Regions from separate parts of the Homo sapiens genome. Here all the other regions are linked to region 3. The links come from fine-mapping of genetic effects on gene expression. A gene starts in region 3. Each other region holds a variant in brackets. All regions are shown on one strand. Distances are from middle to middle.

Region 1 (8,184 bases), 160 kb after region 3:
ACTTGCTGGTATTTGTTATTGCCTATCTTTTGGATAAAAGCCATTTTAATTGGGGTGAGGTGATACCTCATTATAGTTTTGATTTGCATTTCTCTAGTCATCAGTGATGTTGAGTACCTTTTCATATACCTGTGTGCCATTTGTATCTCTTCTTTTGAGAAATTTCTATTCAGATCTTTCATGCATTGTATAATCAGATTATTAGGCTTTTTCCTACTGAGTTGTTTAAATTCATATATTTTATCAATCCCTTGTCAGATGGATGATTTGCAAATATTTTTTCCCATTCTGTGGGTTGTCTCTTCACTTCATTGACAATTTCCTTTGCTGCCCAAGAAGCTTTTTAACTCAATGTGATCCTATTTGTCCCATTTTTGCTTTGGTTGCCTATGCTTGTGGGGAATTACTTAAGAAATATTTGTCCTGACCAATGTCTTGGAGAGTTTTTCCAATGCTTTCTTTTAGTAGTTTCATAGTTTGAGGTCTTAGATTTAATTCTTAATCCATTTTGATTTGATTTTTGTATATGGCAAGAGATAGGGTCTACTTTCATTCTTCTGCTTATGGATATCCAGTTTTCCCAGCACCATTTATTGAAGAAACTCTCCTTTCCCCAATGTATGGTCTTGACACATTTGTCAAGAATGAGTTCACTGTAGGTGTATGGATTTGTTTCTGGGTTCTCTATTCTGTTCCATTGGTCTATGTATCTGTTATGCTAGTACTATGCTGTTTTGGTTACATAGCTCTATAGTATAATTTGAAGTCAGGTAATATGATTGGTTCAGTTTTGTTCTTTTTGCTCAAGATGGCTTTGGCTATTCTGGGTCTTTGTGGTTTCATATAAATTTTAGGATTATTTTTCTATTTCTGTAAAGAATGTCATTAATATTTTGATAGGGATTGCATTTAATCTGTAGATTGTTTGTGGTAGTATGGACATTTTAACAGCATTGATTGTTCCAATCCATAAATATGGAATATCTTTCCATTTTTTAGCATCCTCTTCAATTTCCTCCATCAGTGTTTTATAGTTTTCATTGTAGGGGTCTTTCCCTTCTTTGGTTAAGTTTATTCTTATATATATTATTTTATTTGTAGCTGTTGTAAATTGGATTACTTTTTTTATTTCTTTTTCACATTGTTCACTTTTGACATACAGAAGCGCTACTGATTTTTGTATGTTGATTTTGTGTCCTGCAACTTTAATGAATTTGTTGATCAATTCTAATAGGTTTCTGTTGGAGTCTTTAGGTTTTTTTTTCAAGTATAAGCTCATATCATCTGCAAACAAGGATAATGTAATTTTTTCCTTTCCAGTTTGAGTACTTTTCATTTCTCTCTTGTATCCAGTTGCTCTAGGTAGGTTTTCCACTACTGTGTTGGATAACAGAGGTGAAAGTGTGTATCCTTGCCTTGTTTCAGATCTTAGAGGAAAGGCTTCCAGTTTTTCCGATTCAGTATTGATATGGGTTGGATCTGTGTCCCTGCCCAAATCTTGTGTCTAATTCTAATCCCCAGTGTTGGAGGTGGGGCCTGGTGGGAGATGACTGGATCATGGGGGTGGATTTCCCCTTGGTGATGGTCTCATGACAGTGAGTGAGTTCTCATGAGATCTGGTTGTTTAAAAGTTTGTGGTACCTCCCTGCCTCTCTCTCTTTCTCCTGCTCTGACAATGTGAAGTGCTTGTTCCCCCGTTGCCTTCTGCCATGATTTTAAGTTTCCTAAAGCCTCCCCATAAGACAAGAAAATGCCAGCGTCATGTGTCCTGTACAGCACCATGAGCCAATTAAAGTTCTTTTCTTTATGAATTACTCAGTCTCAGATATTTCTTTATAGTCGTACAAAAACGGACTAACACAAGTATGATACTAGCTGTAGGTCTGTCATATATGGCTTTCATTGTGTTGAGGTATGTTCCTTCTATACTCAGTGTTTTTTTAAAAAAGTTTATTTTTATTTTGTTAGTGATTTTAAATATGGAGTCTCACTTTGTTGCCAGGCTGTATAGTTTTTGTCTTGAAGTCTATTTTGTCTGATATAAGTATAGTGACTCCTGTTTTTTGTTTGTTGGTTTGTTTCATTTGACATGGAATATTTTTTTCTGTCCCTTTATTTTCAGTCTATGTATCATCATATGTGAAGTGTGCTTGTTGTAGACAACGGATCGTAGTGCAGTGGCTATTCACAGGCGCGATCTCCCTGCTGATCGACACAGGAGTTTTGACTGGCTCTTTTTCTGACCTGAGCCAGTTCACTCTTCCTTAGGCAACCTGGTGGTTCCCCGCTCCTGGGAGATTACCATATTGATGCTGAACTTAGTGCAGATACCCAGTCAGTATAGTGCATTACAACCCAGAACGCCTGGGCTCGAGCCATTCTCTTGCCTCAGTGTCCTGAGTAGCTGGGACTACAGGCATGCACCACTGTGCCCAGCTATCCTCATCATTTGGAGGGTTTTCATCATGAAGGGATGTTGAATTTTATAAAATTCTTTTTCAGCATCAATTGAAGTGATCACATGGTTTTTGTTTTACCTTCTGTTGATATGATGCATCACATTGACTGATATGCATGTGTTTAACCATGCTGGCATCCCTGGCATAAATCCCGCTTGGTCATGATGAATGATCTTTATAATGTGTTGTTGAGTTTGGCTTGCTACTATTTTATTGAGGATTTTTGCATCAACATTTGTCAAGGATATTGGCCTGTAGTTTTCTTTTTTTTTGATGTGTCTTCTCTGGTTTTGGTATCAGGGTAATAGTGGCCTTGTAGAACAAGTTTGGAAATATTCCCTCCTCCTCTATTTTTCAGAATGGTTTCAGTAGGATTGGTATTAGTTCTTCTATAAATGTTTGGTCAAATTCAGCAGGCAAGCGATCAGGGCCCAGGCTTTTCTTTGCTGAAGACTTTTTGTTATGGTGTCAATCTCGTTACTTGTTATTGGTTTGTTCACATTTTCTATTTCTTCGTAGTTCAATCTTGAGAGGTTGTGTGTGTTTAAGAATTTCTCCGTTTCTTCTTGGTGTTCCGATGTGTTGGCATATAGTTTCTCATGGTAGCTTCTAATGATCCTTTGTATTTCTGTGGTAACAGTTCTAACGTCTCCTTTTTCATCTCTGATTTTATTTATTTGAATCTTCCTTTTTCTTAGTTGGAGTAAAGGTTTGTCAATTTTATCTTTGCAAAAAACTAACTTTTCATTTCATTAATCTTTTCCTTTTTTTTTTTTTTGAGATGGAGTCTCACTCTGTTGCCAGACTGGAGTGCAGTGGCACGACCTCAGCTCACTGCAATCTCCCCTTCCAGGGATCAAGCAATTCTCCTGCCTCTGCCTCCTGAGTAGCTGGGATTTCAGGCATGTGCCACCACACTCAGCTAATTTTTGTAGTTTTTTTTCTTTTTTTTGAGACAGAGGCTTGCTCTGTTGCCCAGGCTGGAGTGCAGTGGCATGATCTTGGCTCACTGCAACCTCTGCCTCCCAGATTTAAGCTGTTCTTCTGCCTCAGCCTCCCAAGCAGCTGGGACTACAGGCACGTGCCACCATGCCCAGCTAATTTTTTGCATTTTTAGTAGAGATGGGGTTTCACCATATTGGCCAGGATGGTCTCGATCTCCTGACCTTGTGATCCGCTGGCCTCAGCCTCCCAAAGTGCTGGGATTACAGGCGTGAGCCACTGCGCCCAGCCTATCCTTTGCATGTTTAATTTAAATTTTATTTGTTTCTGCTCTGATGTTTATTATCTCTTTTCTTGTACTAATTTTGGGTTTGGTTTGCTCCTGCATTTCTAGTTTTCCAAGATACATTGTTAGGTTATTTGAAGTTTTTCTACTTTTTTGATGTAGGCTTTTATGGCTATAGACTTTTCTTTTATTATACTGTTTTCGCTATATCCTATAGGATTGGTGTGTTTCCATTTTCATTTGTTTCAATAAATTTTTCAGTTTTCTTCTTAATTTCTTCATTGACTCACTGGTCATTCAGGAGCCTATTGTTTAGTTTCCATGTATTTGTGTAGTTTCCAAAATTCCTCCAGTTACTGATTTCTAGTTTTATTCCATTGTGGTCACAGAAGATACTTGACATCATTTCTTTTTTTTTTTTTTTT[A/TTA]TTTTTGAATTTTTTAAGACTTGTTTTGTGGCCTAATATATGGTCTCTCCTTGAGAATGATCCATGTGCTGAGAAGAATGTGTATTCTGCAGCCGTTGGATCACATGTTCTGTAAATACCGGCAGGTCAGTTTGGTCTGTAGTGCAGATTAAGTCCAACATTTCTTTTTTTCTTTTTCTTTTTTTTTGAGATGAAGTTTTGCTCTTATTACCTAGGCTGGAGTGCAATGGCGCAATCTTGGCTCACTGCAACCTCCGCCTCCCAGGTTCAAGCGATTCTCCTGCCTCAGCCTCCCAAGTAGTTGGGATTACAGGCGTGCACCACCATGACCAGCTAATTTTTGTATTTTTAGTAGAGATGGGGTTTCTCCATGTTGGTCAGACTAGTTTCAAACTCCCAACCTCAGGTGATCTGCCCATCTCAGCCTCCCAAAGTGCTGGGATTACAGGCATGAGCCACCGCACCCAGCCATGTCCAATATTTCTTCGTTGATTTTCTGTCTGGGTGATCTGTCCAATGTTGAAGTCTCCAGCTATTATTGTATTGGGGTTTATCTCTCTCTTTTGCTCAAAAATATTTGCTTTTATATATTTGGGTGCTCTAGTATTGGGTGCATATATATTTAAAATTGTTATATGCTCTTGCTGAATTGACCCTTTTATCATTGTATAGCAGTCTTCTTAGTCTCTTCTTATAGTTTTTGTCTTGAAGTCTATTTTGTCTGATATAATTATAGTGACTCCTGGTTTTTCTTTTGTTTGTTTGTTTCATTTGGCATGGAATATTTTTTTCTGTCCCTTTATTTTCAGTCTGTGTATCTTCATATGTGAAGTGTGTTTCTTGAAGACAACAGATCATTGAGTCTCATTTTTAAAAATCCATTTTGCTACTCTGTCTTTTGACTGGAAAGTTTAGTCCATTTACATTCCATGTTATTGATGAGTAAGGAATTATTCTTGCCATTTTGTTGTTTGTTTTTAGGTTGCTTTATGGTCTTCTCTTTCTTCTTGCCTTACTTTCTGTCTTCCTTTAGTGAAAGTGATTTTCTCAGGTGGTGTGTTTTAATTTCTTGCTTTTCATTTGCTGTATATTTGGATTTTTTGGTTCGAGGTTACCATGAGGCTTGCATATAATGCCTTATAACTCGTTATTTTAAACTGATGACAACTTAATACTGATTGTGTAAATAAAGAGAAAACTAATAAAAACTCTACACTCTAACTTTGTCCACCCACTTTTTCACTTTTTGTTGTTACTGCTTATATCTTATTGTACTATCTATGTCTTGAGAAGCTGTTGTAGTTATTATTTTTGTTCAGTCATCTTTAATCTTTATACTCAAGTTATAAGTAGTTTACATACTACAAATAAATGTTATGACATTCTGTCTTTTTCTGTATACTTACTATTACCAGTGAATTTTGAGGCTTCAGATATTTCTTACTGCTCATTAATTTTTTTTTAATTTTTAAATTAATTTTTTAATTCCTTTTTTTTTCCCTTGTAGGACAAGTGTGACATTTATTAAATCCGTCCACTTTTGTTTGTCTGGGAAAGTCTATATTTCTCCTTCATGTTTGAAGGATATTTTTGCTGGTTATTCTATTTTAGGATAAAAGCTTTTTCCTTCAGCACTTTAAATGTATCATGCTACTCTCTACTGGCCTGTAAAGTTTCCACTCAGAAGTCAGCTGCCAAACCTAGTGAAGCTCCATTATATGTTGTTTGTTTCTTTTCTCTTCCTGCTTTTAGGTACCTCAGATATCTTGAGGTTGTCTTTTTTGAGTTAAATTTGCCTGGTGTTCTATAACCTTGTTGTACTGGAATATTGATGTCTTTCTCTAGGTTTGGGAAGTTCTCTGTTATTATGCCTTTGAATAAGTCTTCTACCCTGATCTCTCTCTACCTCCTCTTTAAGGCCATTTACTATTAGATTTGCCCTTTTTAGGCCATTTTCTAGATCTTGTAGTCATGTTTTATTCTTTTTGATTGTTTTATTCTTTTGTCTCCTCTGACTGTGTGTTTTCAAATAGCCTGTCTTCAAGCTTACTAATTGTTTCTTTTGCTTGATCAATTTTGCTGTTGACAGACTGATGTATTCTTCAGTATTTCAATTGAATTTTTCAGCTCCAGAATTTTTACTTGATTTTTAAAAATTATTTCAATTTCTTTGTTACATTTATCTGATAGAATTCTGAATTCCTTCTCTGTGTTATCTTGAATTTCATTGAGCTTCCTCAAAATAGCTATTTTCCATTCTTTCTTTAAGGTCACTGATGTGGTTTGGCTGTGTCCCCACCCAAATCTCATCTTGAATTGTAGCTCCCATAATTCCCACAAATTGTGGGAGAGACCTGGTAGGAGATAATTAATCACGGGGGCGGATCTTTCCCATGCAATTCTTGTAATAGTGAATAAGTCTCATGAGAACTGGTGGTTTTATAAAGGGGAGTTTCCCTGCACAAGTTCTCTTCTTTTGTCTGCTGCCATGTGAGACGTGCTTTCACTTTCTGCCATGATTGTGAGGCCTCCCCACCCACATGGAACTGTGAGTCCATTAAACCTCTTTCTTTTGTAAATTTCCCAGTCTCAGGTATGTCTTTATCAACAGTGTGAAAATGGACTAATACAGTCATATATCTCTGTCTCTCTGAGATTGGTCACCGGTGCCTTATTTGATTGTTTGGTAAGGTCATGTTTTCCTGGATGGTCTTGATGCCTGTGGATGTTCATTGTTGTCTGGGCATTGAAGAGTTGAGTATTTATTGTAGTCTTCCTTGCCTGGGCTTGTTTGTACATGTCCTTCTTGGGAAAGATTTCCAAGTATTCAAAGAGAATTGAGTGTGTGATCTAATTCTGGTCACTGCAGCCATACCTGCATTAGGGAACACTCCATGCCCTGTAATGCTGTGATTCTTGCAGACTCATAGAGATACCACATTGGTGGTCTTGGGTAACCAGGAGAATTCCTTGGACTGCTAGACAGAGACTCTTGCTCTCTTCACTTACTTTCCCTCAAACAAATGGAATCTCTCTCTCCATGCTCAGCTGTCTGGAGTTGGGAGAGGGATGGCCATCACCACTGGGATTGTGCTGGGTCAGACTTGAAACCAGCACAATACAGGGTCTTGCCCAAGGCTTGTGGTGAGTATTGTCTGGCTACCACTTATGTTTATTCATGGCCCAACTATTCTTTAGTCAGGTTGTGATTCATCCTGCTAGGCCTGGGAATCTCCCTTCAGGGCAGTGGGTTCCCTTCTGGCCCAGGGTGGGTGTCAAAATGTCATCCAGGAGCTAAGTCCTGGAATTGGGGACTTTAGCAATTTGTTTAGTGCTTTATTTTACTTTGGCTGAGCTGGTACCCAAATTGTAAGACAAAGTCCTCTTTGCTCTCCCCTCTCCTTTCCTTCAGTGGAAGGAATCTCTGCCAGAGCTGCAAGCTGTGCTGCCTGGAGTTGAGGAAGGGACAGTGCAAGCACTGCCTTGGCTGTCCGCACTGGTGTCTGACTGGGTCACATGCACTCCAACTCTACCGACTCAGCATAGCACCAGGACTTGCCCAGGAATTGTATTCCTGTGGCCTAGACAGCCTTTCAAGTTTATTTAGAACACAGAGCACTTTAGCCTGTGGTGGTGGGGCTAGTTAGAATTCAGGTTCTGACCCCTGGGATGAATGATTATTCCCCTCTAGCTAGGGCTGATCAAAATGCTACCCTGTTGCTCTCCACTGTGACAGGGTAGCACTGAATTCCAATGCAAAATACCACAATCAATATGCTCTTTCTCTCCCAAGCACACAGATTCTTTCTCCAAGCTATGTAGCACCACTAGGGGATGGGGAAGAGGTGGTGTAGGCAATTCAAGACTGTCTTTCCTACTCCCTTCAGTGCCTCCTTCCTTCATATGATGTTGAAACCAGGTACTGTGATTGCTCACCTGGTTTTTGGTTCTTATGAAGGTGCTTTCTTATGTGGATAGTTGTTAATTTGGTGTTCCTGTGGAGGGGAGGACAATTACTGGAGGGTTCTATTCAGCCATCTTGGTCTACTTTCATTCCATTAATATATTATCT
Region 2 (8,184 bases), 130 kb after region 3:
CACAATTGAAAATACCTTCTGATAATAACTAATATTGGGGAAAGTAGGGCCAACTATCTCTTTAAGGAAAAGCTGAAATGTTTGTCTTTCAATAGAAGTTGTTAATTATGAAAACCAATAGCTTATATTAAAGGGAGTGCTTTTCTTTCTCTTAGGAAGGTTTTTATTTTGATGCAAAGGTTTATTAGAAATTGGCAGTGGCTCATACCTGTAATCTTGCCACTTTGGGAGGCTGAAGTGTGAGGATTGCTGGAGGCCAGGAGTTCAAGACCAGACTGGACAACAGAGTGAGAACTTGTCTCTACAAAATATTTTTTAAAAATCTCTATCTATCTATCTATCTATCTATCTATCTATCTATCTATCTATCATCTATCTGCACGTGTGTGTTTATTAAAAATGAAGAATGGCTCTTTCTAATATGATGGTATACAGAGTTTAGGTGATAAAATTTAACTGAGCTAGTCTTCTAAGAAATATCAAGTATTTCCCATGTTCTATCCCTCCGAAGATTGAAAAGAGGAAGAACATTTCTGGTCTATAGCTTTGGTTGGCATTTATAGCGGTGAGCTATATTGATCTGCTGCTGCATATTGTGTAGCAAAAAATAATCATTCATTTTACTTTAGCAAATGTAAGCGAGTCTCCAACTACTAGATTGTAAAAGAAGAGCCCTATGTACTAGTTGTCTTTTTCATCATCTCTGTTAGTATAAATGTTTACTTACTTGAATAAGGTAAGTACTGTACACATCCTGTGAATTAATAAGATAAAAAATACTTTGGAATCATAACCAAATGAAATAGTGCTTTTTTATATCATGCACAGAATGGTGATTCAGATATGTTGGTATAAGAATGAGGAATTCTTTCTATTGAAATTAAAAAAAAAATGTTACCAGTTTTTAGCTTCAGCTTTTTAGGAGTCTGAGCCTCTTATGTCTGCTGAAGTCACGACATTCCTCATCTTTTCCTGGGCCCAAGCAAAAGACTCCTAACCTTAATTGGGCCAGGATATCAGCTGTTTTCAGTCTGAAGCTGTGATTTTCAAAATTAACATCCATCAGTTTCTTTGAAAGTATGATATTAGTTGAATGCCTTCATCCTGCCATCTCCTCTCTGAATTCCAATAGGAATGCTTAAAATAGACAAAGCCTACTCTTTTTTTCTCTTATTTTTAACTTTACTTTTAATTTATGTTATTTTGTTGTGCATTTTGTATATCTTTTGCAATCTCACATCATATTAGAACAAGGAAGGGTATAGATAAGTGAATTTTAATTTAATATCTTTTTAAGCAGTGTTTCCCACGTGGGAGGCATATCAGAATCATCTATGTAATGTTTAATAAAAAACAGATGGTAGGCCCCATGTTGGCCCTGATGAATCAGAATCTTCAGGATAGTGGAGCTTAAGTTTATATATGTTTCAAAAGTTCCCCACCTGTTTCTGATAATGTATCTTTAATTTTGAACCACTGCGCTAAACTGTGTTTTCTGTTTCTTTTTTTACTTTTCCAAGGTAATGTGTGATGTAACTCTATGGCAAATATTTTTCTGGAATGATTCATACCAGGAGTTTTCTTTAAATTTATCTGTTTTTATATTTACTTTAAAAAATTCTGTGTGTTTGTATGTATTTGTATACATACATATATATACAGACACATATATATTTATATGCACATGTATATGCATATGTAATATTTGATTTTTTTTCATAGTTTGACTATAAAAATGACCCACAGACACTTATTTTGATTTTGTCCTGTTCTAGAGAGCGATCCCTTTGGTGTTCTGTAGCATAAGCATGAGTGGGAATGAATCTTTTGCTTGGGCCCAGGAAAAATGAGGAATGTCGTGACTGTCTCAGTAAACACGGATGATGGTGATCAATTTAGTCTTGGTTGTTATAACTGTCATTGGCATCAAGAGAGTGATATTGCTCATATAATTTGCATATAATTTAGAATTCATAGTTGAAGAATTAAATAAAGTTATTTAAAAAGAACAAATTTTGACAATGTGTCAAAACCAGCCTTTTAAGTTTATGGGAAGTTGCTGAGTTTGAATGTTACTGTTTTTCAAAGGTCTTTATGATTCAAAATGAGCCTATTCATACTTCCTAAGTCAGTACTTTCTCTTTTTAAAATTTCCAACTTTTATTTTGAGTTCAGAGGTACATGTGCAGGATGTGCAGGTTTGTTACATGGGTAAACGTGTGCCATGGTGGTTTGCTGCATAGATCATCCCATCACCCAGGTATTAAGCCCATCATCCATTAGCTGTTCTTCCTGATGCTATCCCTCCTCCCTCCTCTCACCCTCTGACAGGCCCCAGTGTGTGTTGTTCCCCACCATGTGTGCATGTGTTCTCATCATTCAACTTCCACTTATAAGTGAGAACACGTGGTATTTGGTTTTCTGTTCCTGGGTTAGTTTGCTAAGAATAATGGCCTCTAGCTGCATCCATGTCCCTGCAAAGGACATGATCTAGTTCCTTTTTATGGCTGCATAGTATTCCACGGTGTGTATGTACCACATTTTCTTTATCCAGTCTATCATTGATGGGCATTTAGGTTGATTCCATGTCTTTGCTCTTGTGAACAGTGCTGCAGTGAACATACGCATGTATGTATCTTTATAATAGAATGATTTATATCCCTTGGGGTATATACTCAGTAATGGGATTGCTGGCTTGAATGGTATTTCTGCCTCTAGGTCTTTGAGGAATTGCCACACTGTCTTCCACAATGGTTGAACTAATTTACACTCCCAACAGTGTAAAAATGTTCCTGTTTCTACAGAACCTTGCCAGCATCTGTTATTTTTTTGAATTTTTAGTAATAGCCATTTAGTCAGTACTTTCTTGATAGTGAGAAGATTGAAACAATTAAGACTTAAATTTTAATCTTGGTTTCAATACAGATTCATTGCCATTATGAATATAAAGCAAATTCATTAGTTTTCTATCTGCTGAAAGTTGGGAGTGTGTAGCCAAGAATTTACAGAAGACTTTAAATATTTGGATAAAAATGACTGTAAATGTGTTTAACTTTTCTTTGCTATAAGTCGCACAAAATGTATCTGAAGGTGATAGAAAAGAAACTATCCACATTAGCACATGTAAGAAAAAATTGTTCATATTATATAGCTCCAGTTTTTTACAGTAGATAAACTTTTATATGCCACAACTATTAATAGTTTGCTTAAGTCTGTTACACTATTTTATTGTTAGCACATTGTGTGTGTGCTTTTAAAAATTGCTTTTAAGTGCTATGCTATTGTTTCCCAATTCCTGTACCTCATCTGATGACTGTCCTCTTCAATTTCCTCCATTATCAAGCCTCTTTAAATAAAATGAGTCATTGTGATGGTCCTAGCATAGCTTTTCAGGAAAACTCATCAACTGCTAGAAAATGCACATTATTGATAAACATCTCTGCATGTTGAGTTTGCATGATCTCTCATTTTAAAATTGAGTCAACACATGGATGGTTAGGTCACCATAAAAGTTGGCATATGAAAACACAGGAATAGAGCTGATTGAGTTAAATTCTGTTATTCAGGTGGAAATTACTGCCATTATGTAAACGAACATTTTAAAAGCGGAAGAAAATGCTAAATATAAAGTAGGGAAAAAAACCTCTCACTCTTACTATATTATGTAATGAGTAATGGAAAAAAATCCTAAAATGACCAAAAAAAAGCTTTCTGAAGAGCTTTCGTTTTAGGAATTGGAGAAGATGACTTCTCTGTTACTATATGGAATGTTAAGTTCAGACGGAGGTGACTCTATAAAGCCATGTAAGCTACCTTGCATGTCTTAAAAATTAATTCGTCATGTTCTTTGTTGGGTGGTGGGGATTTGTTTTAGGATATGACAGCGCGTGATCTGCTACAGCAGAGATACACCCTTCCAAATGGAGACACTGCCTGGCGGTCCTCACCCCTTGTGAATGCTGCTCTGGAAGGCAAGCTGGTCCTGCTGGATGGCATTCACCGGGTGAATGCGGGCACGCTTGCTGTATTGCAAAGGTGGGTATGAGTCACAAAAATCACACACAGACACACACCCCACTCTGACTTAAGCAGTAAAGATGGAACTATCTCATTCTTTTTCTTTTTTTTAAACTGGGTTGTGTAGATCCTGAAAAATCATGATTCTATACCAAGTAGAATGGCACTTTTTTATTGTTATAAACACAATGCAGTAAAACTCCAAATAATGAACATTTTGGGAAAAGCCACTCCTGTAGCAGAATTCCGTGTGTAGGCACTGCAAAAAGAAAGTGCTTCAGTAGTAAGTTTGAAAAACTTTATATATACAGGTCTATATATGCAGCATGTCACATTGCTGAAGTTTCTATAATTTGTCAGAGTCACAGCTTCAGTATTTACACACTCCTTATCAATCATAGATCTTAATTATTGGTTGGTCTTGTTGGAATCTTTTTTTTTTGAGAGAGAGAAAAGTAGTTTTGTTTGTAAAATATATAATAGCTTTAAATTATATTTTATATAGACTAAAAAAGCTCACTTTGTTAATTATAAACTTGAACATTTCTATAACTATTGTTTTCTTATTTTGGTTTAGTTGGGAAAAATTTCCACACATTCCTAAAACTTCTCTAGAATTTAATGTTAAGAGAAGGCTCTT[C/T]GTGTGTAACTTTTGTAGAAAATATTCCCATCTTGTATCATTTTAGGAGATTAATGATACTGATATTTTCTGTTTATTTTGGTTCTCTAACTTGTAGACATTTGATTTTTAACTGTGACTCATTAGGAAAGGTTAAATAAGTAGAATAAGCCATTATCCAACTAACCACTTAGAGTTTTTTTTTTCTTGATGTGATGCAGATACTGAATGTAATTAAAAATTCTAAATACGTTATGTTAATCCTGATTAGATTTTAGAACATTTAAAAATAGTCACAAACTTTCAGTGATTTACCATAAACGTTCCATAGATTTACAATATTTTTTTCTCCCAGACCACTGCAGACACGGTAATAGTCCCATTTTATTAGCTATCTCTTGCATGTTTGCAAGTAGTAATAATAGAAGCAGCTACTACCATTAATTGAGTACCTACTCTGTGCATTGTGCTAAGCCAGTGCTTCTCAGGTTCTCAACCTTGGAATCACCTTGCAGGGTGGCAATTAAAAAATACTGATGCCGGCCAGGTGTAGTGGCTCACGCCTATCATCCCAGTGCTTTGGGAGGCCGAGGTGGGCAGATCACGAGGTCAAGAGATTGAGATCATCCTGGCTAAGATGGTGAAACCTTTTCTCTACTAAAAATACAAAAATGGACTGGGAGTGGTGGCATGTGCCTGTAGTCCCAGCTACTCAGGAGGCTGAGGCAGGAGAATTGCTTGAACCCGGGAGGTGGAGGTTGCAGTGAGCCGAGATGGCGCCACTGCACTCCAGCCTGGTGACAGAGCGAGACTCTGTCTCAAAAAAAAAGAAAAAAAAAATGCTGATGCGGGCCAGGTGCAGTAGCTCACACCTGTAGTCCCAGCATTTTGGGAGACCGAGGTGGGCGGATCACCTGAGGTCAGAAGTTTGAGACCAGCCTCGTCAACATGGTGAAACCCCGTCTCTATTAAAAGTACAAAAATTATCTGGGCATGGAGGCATGCACCTGTAATCCCAGCTACTCAGGAGGCTAAGGCAGGAGAATAGCTTGAACCCAGGAGGCGGAGGTTGCAGTGAGCCTAGATCGCGCCACTGCACTGCAGCCTGGGTGACGAGAGGGAGACTCTGTCTCAAAAAAAAAAAAAAAAAAAAAAACTCATGCCTGGGCTTCACCATCAGAATTTTCTGATATAATTGGTCTAGGCCAAGGTCTGAACATTGGCATTTTTAAACACTTCCCAGAAGATTCTAACGTACAGTCAAGATTGAGAACAGCTATAAGCATCCATTTTACATTAGCTGTTTAGTTTTCACATTAATATTGTGAAGTTGTGACTGTTGCCTTAACGTTATGGAAGACGAGAGTTTAGAGAGATAGAGTCGTTCTCCCTCTCCCCACTCATTCAGCTAGTAAGGTGCACAGCTGGAGTTGAACCCAGGTCTGATTGGTTCCACCGGCCATGCTCCTATCCCCTGCATTACACAGCATCCCCTCCCTTCAGTGCTTATAGAATGGAGGCTATGTAGGCTAACTCTATTGTGGGCATTAGGAGACTTAGGGGTTGGTGTGAGATATAGAACAGTGCTTTTCAGCCATTGCAACATCTGGAAGACTATGCTATGTGTGATGTGGATGGTTAGGTCACCTTCAGAGTTGCCATATGTAGAGCAATGTAGTTATTTCATTATAAGATTTTTGTATTTTTAAATCTTGTAATTCCAAAGATAGAAATATTTTTATGCCAACCCTTACAGAGTTACTTTAGACCGAAGAGAGTAAGTGCCACCTGCCTTGTTTATTAATATGTACCTTGTGGTTATCTTGAGATACTCATTCAGCTGTTTCTTTTGCTCTCCTTCCTCCTCCTCTTTTCTTTTTTCCTCCTCCTCCCCCTCTTTCATATCCCTATCAAATATTTATGACTACTGCCCTCCAGTACAGAAACCAACAGTTTTGCGAAGTGTAACAGCAGTAGCCAATTTGAAATTTTGAAAGGTCCATCTAACAAAATTATTAGACTCAATTGCCAGCAATAATAGACTGTTGGCTGACTGATTCTGCCTCTGAAAACTTCAGTGTTCAAAACACATTAATTTATTTTCGGGCTTTTTTCTTATCTTGTTAGGTTAATCCATGATCGAGAGCTAAGCCTCTATGATGGTTCTAGGCTGCTGAGAGAAGACAGGTATATGCGTTTAAAGGAGGAGCTGCAACTGTCTGATGAACAGCTACAGAAGAGGTAATTTGGGGTCCATTACTCCCATTGCTAATTTATTGTTAAGTTAAAAATAATACTTTTTATGATTTTTCTAAACCTAGAATAATGCCAAGATAACTTTGAACAATTTAATAATTTGGTGTCCTGGATATGCCACTACTTTGGCATTTCTTAAAACTTGAGGTTGCTCTCCAAGGTGTAATCTGTACTCTCAGCCTTACTTTTTTTTTTTAAAAAAAAAAACCTAATCAACTGTTTTATTTGCTTTTTTGTTGTTAATATGACAGTGATTTTTTTTTTTTTTTTTGAGACAGAGTCTCGCTCTGTCACCCAGGCTGGAGTGCGGTGGCGCAATCTCGGCTCATTGCAAGCTCCGCCTCCCAGGTCCATGCCATTCTCCTGCCTCAGCCTCCCAAGTAGCCAGGAACACAGGCGCCCGCCACTACACCCAGCTAATTTTTTGTATTTTTTAGTAGAGACAGGGTTTCACCTTGTTAGCCAGGATGGTCTCGATCTCCTGACCTCGTGATCCGCCCGCCTTGGCCTCCCAAAGTGCTGGGATTACAGGCGTGAGCCACTGTGCCCGGCCGACAGTGATTTTTTTAAAAAAATTTTTTATTTCAATAGTTTTTGGGGCACAGATGGTTTGTGGTTACAGGGATAAGTTCTTTAGTGGCGATTTCTGAGATTTTGGTATACCTGTCACCTGAGCAGTGTACCTGATATGTAGTCTTTTATCCCTCACCGCCCCCCACAAGCTTCCCTGCCCCTGAGTTCCAAAAGTCCATTATATCATTCTTATGCTTTGTGTCCTCATAGCTTAGCTCCCACTTGTAAGTGATGACATGCAATATTTGGTTTTCCATTCCTGAGTTACTTCACTTAGAATAATGGCCTCCAGCTCCATCCAAGTTGCTGCAAAAGATATTATTTCATTCCTTTTTATGGCTGAGTAGTATTCCATGGTGTGTGTGTGTGTGCATGTGTGTGTGTGTGTGTGTGTGTGTGTGTGTGTGTGTATCACATTTCCTTTATCCACTCGTTGGTTATAGGCACTTAGGTTGGTTCCATATCTTTGCAATTGTGAATTCTGTTGCTATAAACATGAATGTGCATGTATCTTTTTCATATAATGACATCTTTTTTTGGGGGTAGATACCCAGTAGTGGGATTGCTGGATCAAACAGTAGTTCTACTTTTAGTTCTTTAAGGACTCTCCATACTGTTTTCCATAGTGGTTATACTAATTTACATTGCCACCAGCAGTGTAAAAGTGTTACTTTTTCACCACATGCATGCCAACATGTATTATTTTTTGACTTTTTAAT
Region 3 (8,184 bases):
TAATCATGCCACTGCACTCCAGCCTGGGTGACAGAGCCAGATCCTGTCTCAAAAAAATGGAAAAAAGAGCAATAAGAGGTCAGTCTTGGAGTACCAAAGAACCAGTGACTTTTGTGTTTTTTTTGTTTTTTTGTTTGTTTTTTGTTTTGAAACAGAGTTTTACTCTTGTTGCCCAAGTTGGAGTGCAATGGCACGATCTCAGGTCACTGCAATCTCTGCCTCCTGAGTTCAAGCGATTCTCCTGCCTCAGCCTCCCGAGTAGCTGGGATTACAGGTGCACATCACCGCACCCAGCTAATTTTTTGTATTTTTAGTAGAAATGGGGTTTCTCCATGTTAGCTAGGCTGGTCTCGAACTCCTGACCTCAGGTGATCCGCCCGCCTCGGCCTCCCAAAGTGTTGGGATTACAGGCGTGAGCCACTGCACCTGGCTGTGATTTTCCTTTTTCCCTCCCTCTCTATAAAGAACAGTTGTACAGCTTCATGACTGAAATGTGTGGCACATGGGTGATCTCCTATAGGTATTACTAAAGATGAATATTCTTGGGCCCTTTCAGACCTATTGACTCAGAATCTCTGGGTGCAGGGAGGAACGAAACCCTATAATCTGCATTTTAATAAGTTCTCCAGGTAATTAGGATGCACACAAAAGTCTGGGAACCAGTGGTATGAACCTTTGATTTCTTAGCTGGGGTAGACAGTAGGGAGGAGTGGAGCACCCACCTTTTTTCAGTCAGACATAGCATGGAAGGATTATTAGTTGCATTTTTCATCAAGTTACATTAATGTGGTATGTAAAAAATATTCCTCCCAAACTCTGGAAAGAGCTTGACAGTCAATACTAGCTTTTGGTAGTGTGATTTTCTTTTTTCTTTTTTTTTTTTTTTTTGAGACAGAGTCTCACTCTGTTGCCCGGGCTGGAATGCACTGGTGCGATCTCAGCTCACTGCAACCTCTGCTTCCCGGGTTCAAGCGATTCTCCTGCCCCTGCCTCCCGAGTAGCTGGGATTACAGGCACCCACCATCACGCCTGGCTAATTTTTGTATTTTTAGTAGAGATGGGGTATTGCCATGTTGGCCAGGCTGGTCTCAACTCCTGACCTCAGGTGATCCACCCATCTCAGCCTCCCAAAGTGCTGGGATTATAGGTTTGAGCCACTGTGCCCGGCTGGTAGCTTGTTTTTTAATAAGCATGTGATCAGATATTTTAGTGAGAGTTTGAGAGACTTTACACAGATTGTGATGAACATCTTTTAAAACAAAACACCTTTGGTTCTTCTTTAAAAACATTGTGAAGGTCCATTCTTTCCCATTCAGTCTCATTGCCATCAGCACTGTTCATCATTTCAAGTAGAGACTATTTTTACTGCCACGTAGCTAGCACTTGATGCTTCCTGTCTTCCTAATTCAATTCATAGTATGTCACCACCTAAAACACGATCAAAAAGTCCAGTAGCTGCCCAGTTTGCTCATCGGATGAAGTCCAACTTCATCCAGCTACTCAAGATTCTTCACTCTGTAACCTTCTCCTCCTGCTCTGCCAACACCTTCTACTACTTTCGAAAGATTAACCTCCTCATCTGGCTGGTCTCATGGCCCCTGTAACTGAACTCTGTCAGGACTCCAAGCCTCTACTTAGGCTCTATACCCCGCTTCTCTGTGTATCCAGTCCTAAATGGCATTCAAAGTTAAGCTCAGGTGCTGCCTTTTCTCAGGCTCAAAGTTTTCCTCCCCATTGTAGCTTTGTCACTCTAAAAAACCTTCACCATTTTTCCATTTCCTGGAGGTTAATGTGCAAACTCCTTCTCTTGGCATACAACATGGCCCCAGATTCTCTTTCTGGTCTTATTCTTACAAACTGTTGTATATACTTGACCTCTAGACACACTGAATCACTCTCTGGTTCTCAATCATGCCCTGCACTTTCAGCTGTTTCTTTCTCTCTCTCTCTGTACATGATCTGTCTGCCAGATTTGACTTGTCTCAGCCTGACAAACTCTTGTATAATATATCCTACATGAATCATTTCAAACACTACCTTCTCTGTGAAGACTCCAGGTGCAGCAATCCACTCCACAGTATGTTGAACCTAAATCTCTTGACACGTGTCTCACTGTATTGCAATTCTTTATTTGCATATTTATCATCAATACCTAATGTGAGCCCATTGATTCACAGTATCTAGCAGGGTACTGTTTATACAGCAGTTACTCAATAAATGTTGTCGTTGGGAGGCTGAGGCAGGAGGATCACTTGAGGCCAGGAGCTTGAGACCAGCCTGGGCAACATAACAAGACTCCACTGCTACGAAAACAAAAACACAAAAATTAGCCAGGCACAGTGGTGCACGCCTGTAGTCTCAGCTACTAGGGAGGCTGAAGCAGGAGGATCACTCGAGCCCAGGAGTTCGAGGTTGCAATGAGCTATAATACTGCCGCTGCACCCCAGCCTGGGCAACAGAGTGAGACTTTGTCTCTAAAAAAAATAAAACTAGGCAAAAAATGTTGTTGAATGCTCTAACTTGTGTTGATCTCTCCATTGTCTTAACTCCAAGAGCTCTTAGTGCTTATATCAACCACTTTGCAAAATTGCCTTAGGTTGTTCTCCCATTCTTTCAGGTGTCTACTGAGTTCCAGCGAGATTAAATGGAGATATCTTGACCAAGGTATTCAATTCTTCTAGCCTCAGTTTCTTCATCTGTAAAACGGAGGATAATAATAGTACCTCAAAGCATTTTTATGTGAAATGGGATAATTCATTAAAATCTTGATACATACAATGTGCTCAAAGTAGGAAAAGCATTTTATAAGCTTACATCCTAAATTTATGTCTTAGGGTTGCTATGAGGATTAAATGAGAAGATACACATGAAACGAAGTCATAATATATTGTGTAACTACTTATTACCTTTATTTTCACTGTCTCCTCATCTAGGTTAGAAGCCTGGTTCAGCCTTCATTCCTCAAGTTCTTCCGCTGGATGCCCAAAGCCTTCCTTACCTAGCCTTGTTTGACTTTTACAGTCTCCACTCTAACACTCTCTTCTCAGCACTCATCACAGGGTCAGGCGCAGGGTAGGTGCTATGTATTTAGACAGTGGCAGCTCTAGAATTAGCAAGGTCTTTAGCTGAAAGTGAGGTCTTCTGCCTTCTTTTTGATGTTTGCTTGTATAACTTGTCTCAAATATTTTGCCTTAGTCAATTCACTGTGACATTTTGGGGATGCAGTCTAATTACATTAGGCTTAGTTTGCTTTGTGGTAGGACCATTTCCGATGTTGGAATGTACAAGAGGGAGGCAGCCTTAGCCAGTGTCCTACTTTTTCCTTTACTAAAGACATAAATCATCTTTATATAACTTTTGTATTACAGCATGACTAGAAAAGTGCTTGATCTGGATCCTTTCTGATATTTAAGCAATTTCCATCTATCACTAAGATGTGAATTTTTTCCTTAGAATTTAGGAAGCGGTAATAAAACACAGAAACAAACAACCACCACCAAAAGGACAAAGGGTAAAGCTTTCACGTACGGTTTGGAAACACTAGTGTGGTTACAATGAATCAAGACAGTTGTGAAAGTTCCCATCATCTTGTGCATGTTTTCTCCATTTCCGAAATCTGAAGCCGAATACAGGGAAAGCTCCCTATACTTACTGGGCCTTTAACTAAGAAACGAAGACTTGGGGCAAGCATCTGAAGAGTCACACCGACAAATGCTCCTAAAACCCTTGGCATTTACTGAACTCCTGAGATTCTGTGGGATCGCAGGGAAACGGCGGGTGAAGGCCTGGTGCATCCAGGTGAACAGACAGTCTCACGGACTGCGAGGCGCTTGCCAGAGCCCAGCGCCGCAGCTCGGAGCACCCCCGCGGTGCGGGCAGTCCCGGGACGGTGCCGGCTCTTTGGGCTGGAGCTCCGCAGGCTCTTTCCGCCCGTCTGGGCCATGCAGGGCCGGGTAGGGCCGGGCTGAGTCTACTGAGCCGGCCGCGCCGCGGGGGAAGGAGTTTCCGGCGGACTCGGCTAGGTGCCGCTTCCTGTCCCCTTCTCCGCGCTGCCTCACGGTGCCTGCACGGGACGCCGCTCGATCCCCGAGCCCCCTCGCCGTCCCCGACAGCCCCCCCGGCGCCATGCAATCCCGGCTTCTACTCCTCGGGGCACCCGGAGGCCACGGCGGCCCGGCCTCGCGGCGCATGCGGCTGCTCCTGCGGCAGGTGGTGCAGCGCAGGCCGGGTGGCGACAGGCAGCGGCCGGAGGTCAGACTGTTGCACGCCGGCTCGGGGGCCGACACAGGTAACTCGGGGTGCGCCCCTGTCCTCCCTGGTGCCCCTGCGCTCCGTGCCGGGTCCCCGCGCGCCCCCGCCCCTCCTCTCTGTTGCTTCGCTGCGCTTGGAAGGACCGTTTGCCGAGCGGGGAGCTGAAAGATTGAGGTTCTAGTCCCGACCTCGGCGCTAACTGCTGTGTAACGTGGGGGCAAGGCGCTCGCCCTCTCTGTGCCTGATTCTGCAACCCGAGGGGTCTGGACTAAGGTTTCTGATGACCTAGAAGAGTGATTTCTCCTTCCCCTGCCGCTGCCTTTACCCCCAGAATTCTGACTTAGGTTATAATACTCGTAGAGGTTAATGCCTCAGCCCTATGGAATTATTGAAAGCTGGATTTGACCTTGCTCTCTGAGCCTCAAGGGCCTGGAAGCCGGTCTGTGTCATGTTCTAGCCAGGGCTTGTGGCGGCTTAGAAGGGAACATTCTTGCCAAAGAACCCATAGTTCACGGTGTTTTAAATGCATCCCCGAGCCTTTCCAAGTTTTACAGGAGTTTTCCTTAAAGTTTCACGTAATTCTTAGAGCTGACAGTTACACCTTAATTTAGTTAAAACACTTGCCTCTACAAATGAGGTAATTGAAACCCAGAAGGGAAAAGTGATTCGCTGGAGAACACACAACTAATTACTATGCTAGAATCACATGCTTTGATTTCTAAGCTCAGTATTTTTTGGCTCTACTTGAGCTGGTTTTAGGAATTCTTTTTCTTGTGTGTTGGTGGAGTTAGAGTTACTGTGATGGTTAAGGAAAGGATATCTGTTGTTGCTACCCTTGAATGGTGAAGTGATTCCAGACAAGATTTTGTCAATGTCAGTGCTGCTTGGAATAACAGGTTTTCACTATGAAATTGTAGGTTTCGTTGTCCTCTTGCATTTTCCCCGCAACCCCCAGTTTTCCTTGCTAAGAAATGAGCATATGGGCCGGGCGCGGTGGCTCACGCCTGTAATCCCAGCACTTTGGGAGGCTGAGGCGGGCGGATCACGGGGTCAGGAGATCGAGACCATCCTGGCTAACACGGTGAAACCCCCGTGTCTACTAAAAAGAAAATACAGAAAAATTAGCCGGGCGTGGTGGCGGGCGCCAGTAATCCCAGCTACTCCGGAGGCTGAGGCAGAAGAATGGCGTGAACCCGGGAGGCGGAGCTTGGAGTGACCGGAGCCACTGCACTCCGGCCTGGGCGACAGAGCAAGACTCCATCTCAAAAAAAAAAAAAAAAAAAGCATATTTAGGTCCCACGTATTTCGTTTTATTCATTGAAGACATACACCACCCCCGTCCCCCACCATAGTGTTGCAATTTCAAATTTTACTTTTTGTTTTTTTTTTTTTTTTTGCTTTTTCTCAATTACTCTCACTTCTGGGCTGTTTATTCATTTGTTTTTTACATTTTTTGTGTGTTCTTTATTTGTTTTTTGCTCCTTTGCCCTAGAAGGCAGAGGTCAAAGGTGGAAGTATAGCATAAACTATAGGTTGGGTTTTGGAGTTAAACAATTTGGGTTGGAATCCACTTATCCACTATCTAACCATGGGTCGTTGAGGGTAGGTTACTTAACTTTGTGTCCTAGTTTTCTTAACTGTAAAAGGATAAGAAGAATATATCTATTATGGTTGTTGTGAGGATTTATTAATTAATATAATCTGTGGCACATATTAATGCTCAATAAAAGTTAGCTTTTTTATTCTTAGTATGTACAGTTTTAGCTATTTGAGAATTATTCTGTTTCCTTGCCTTTAGAAGACATGAAACCAAGTTTGTTTAGATTCAGGACTGTTCAGACTATCTGGGTAGGCAGATTTAGCCGAGTGAATTGACTTGAACTTTTTAAAAAACAATTGTTCTTTGTACATGGATAATACATGTTGATTGTAAAAACACATGTGGGTGTGAGTTTTTAAAGTCTGTATTATATACGTATTGGTAGATAAGTTGTAAATGTCCTCAAATTTTGTTATAGCCAGTAAATCAAAGTATAGGCTTTGCTTCAAATGTGAGAGTCATGGACATATTACAGAGAACATACTATCTTCTTTAAATCAGTCATTTACTCTGGCAGGATCAGACCAAAAAGAGGTATTTTTTGAGGGTGTGAGAACTGTAACTGAATGCAGCTGGGAACCCACCAGAGATCTGGACTTGAGTAAGAGCAGTTGTGAGCCAGGTAAATGGACAGCACACTTTTGGCTACTCTGAGGCCTGAGAGTAAGGCTATCAAGATGGAAGTGTCCCATTTTGAATCAGAGATCATACATGGACAAGTGTAAAACTACAAATAGCAATAGGCCATAATGGATTACATCTTATGTTGGGATGATGCTCTCAGCTGCATTCATACATGTGACCAGTAACTGATTATCTCCTCTCTCTGTAATTGACATTGCTTCCTAATAGTTTGAAAAAAGAACAACAAAGTTCATAAATAATATATTTAAGTTATATACTGCTGTTATTTCTCCTGGAGTATTTGTTTTGTTTATCTATATATTCGTTTGGTGCCTGCCAACACTTTGTACCTAGTAAGCATTCAGTGGCTTATTTTGTGAAAGTTCATACAGAGAAGGAGCAGGAGAGGCTGGAATTGTCGTTTGCTCTCAAGAGAGGACCTTTGTTAAGCCTGATAAGCAGAAGGAAAATAGGTCATTTATGTTAAAAACAAAACAAGCAGATAAACTCAACCCAAACCCACTGCTTTTTATCCTGTGCTGTCAGATAGTATAAGTATCTATAATTGTAAATTCTTTATATCTCTTTATACTTCCATTAAAATTACTGTCTCTTGGTTTTAAGAGCAAAGAGGTTAACAAGGATATCTACTGCAGAGAGTTTTCAATAAAGATTATTGTAGTGTTTTTACAGATGGAGCCAAGCAAGTTGTTTCAGTGGGACTCTGATGTTAAATGGATTCAAATATACTATAGATCAAATGATAAACCTAGAAACATAACTGTATAAATATATCATGACATTTTGGTGCTTTCCTTTAACGCCATTATTATTAAAGGGATTCACAGTTTTTTCTTTATGACTCTTGTATATGAAGTAAATTTGTTTATAGAAATACCCTAAAATACTTTTACACAGCAATCTATGTTTATTATAGAAGAGTGATAAGTACAGATTCCCTAAAACATGATCCTCCCACCCAAATTTATAATTATCAACTTTTTAGCATTAATCCTATCAGATTACATATATATGTATAATTATTTATTTATTTATTTTTGAGATGGAGTCTTGCTGTGGCACCCAGGCTGGAGTGCAGTGGAGCAGTCTTGGCTTACTGCAACCTCCACCTCCTGGGTTCAAGCGATTCTCCTGCTTCAGCCTCCCAAGTAGCTGGGACTACAGGTGTGCACCACTGTATTAATCTGTTCTCACACTGCTATAAGGACATGCCAGAGACTGGGTAATTTATGAAGAAAAAGAGGTTTCATGGACTCAATAGTTTCGCATGGCTGGGTAGGCCTCACAATCATTGTGGAAGGCGAAGGAGGAGAAAAGTCACGTCTTACATAGCGGCAAGTAAGAGAGCTTGTGTACAGAAACTCCCCTTTATAGAACCATCAGACCTCGTGAGACTTTTTCACTACCACGAGAACAGCACAGGAAAAACCTGCCCCCATGATTCAATTACCTCCCACTGGGTCCCTCCCATGACACATGGGGATTATGGGAGCTAGAATTCAAGACAAGATTTGGGTCGGACACAGGCAAACCATATGAGCCACCCCAGCTAATTTTTGTATTTTTGGTAGAGATGGGGTTTCACCATGTTGGCCAGGCTGGTCTCGAACTCCTGACTTAAAGTGATCTGCCCATCTTTGCCTCCCAAAGTGCTGGGATTACAGATTTGAGCCACTGTGCCTGGATGA

Alleles and levels. Positions count from the first base shown, and alleles are read on the strand shown. Sizes are in standard deviations (SD) of each study's normalised expression. Not every link is listed here.
As copies of T replace C in region 2, the expression in nucleus accumbens of the gene that starts at base 4,032 in region 3 goes down (moderate effect, 0.68 SD a copy in GTEx).

What was found.
Region 1: its variant is fine-mapped to the expression of VWA8 in whole blood (INTERVAL, PIP 0.97).
Region 2: its variant is fine-mapped to the expression of VWA8 in nucleus accumbens (GTEx, PIP 0.99). The same link has a PIP of 0.9 or more in putamen.

The regions. Positions count from the first base shown.
Region 1 is chr13:41,801,930-41,810,113 of GRCh38, reverse strand. All of the region lies in intron 17 of VWA8 (von Willebrand factor A domain containing 8), which reads left to right. It also overlaps the pseudogene RN7SL515P. Among named protein-coding and RNA genes, the nearest start is that of VWA8, 160 kb to the left of the region's middle. RefSeq lists an enhancer at 6,585-7,784. The variant A/TTA (reference allele first, on the strand shown) is at 4,113.
Region 2 is chr13:41,829,222-41,837,405 of GRCh38, reverse strand. It overlaps VWA8 (von Willebrand factor A domain containing 8), which reads left to right. Exons shown (of 45, transcript NM_015058.2): 13 at 3,875-4,035; 14 at 6,764-6,877. Among named protein-coding and RNA genes, the nearest start is that of VWA8, 130 kb to the left of the region's middle. The variant C/T (reference allele first, on the strand shown) is at 4,658.
Region 3 is chr13:41,956,957-41,965,140 of GRCh38, reverse strand. VWA8 (von Willebrand factor A domain containing 8) reads left to right here and starts at 4,032. Exons shown (of 45, transcript NM_015058.2): 1 at 4,032-4,288. The coding sequence starts at 4,126. It overlaps VWA8-AS1 (VWA8 antisense RNA 1), which reads right to left and starts at 3,972. Exons shown (of 4, transcript NR_039974.1): 1 at 2,907-3,972. RefSeq lists a silencer at 3,953-4,362 and enhancers at 4,563-4,702, 4,798-5,298, 5,299-5,799.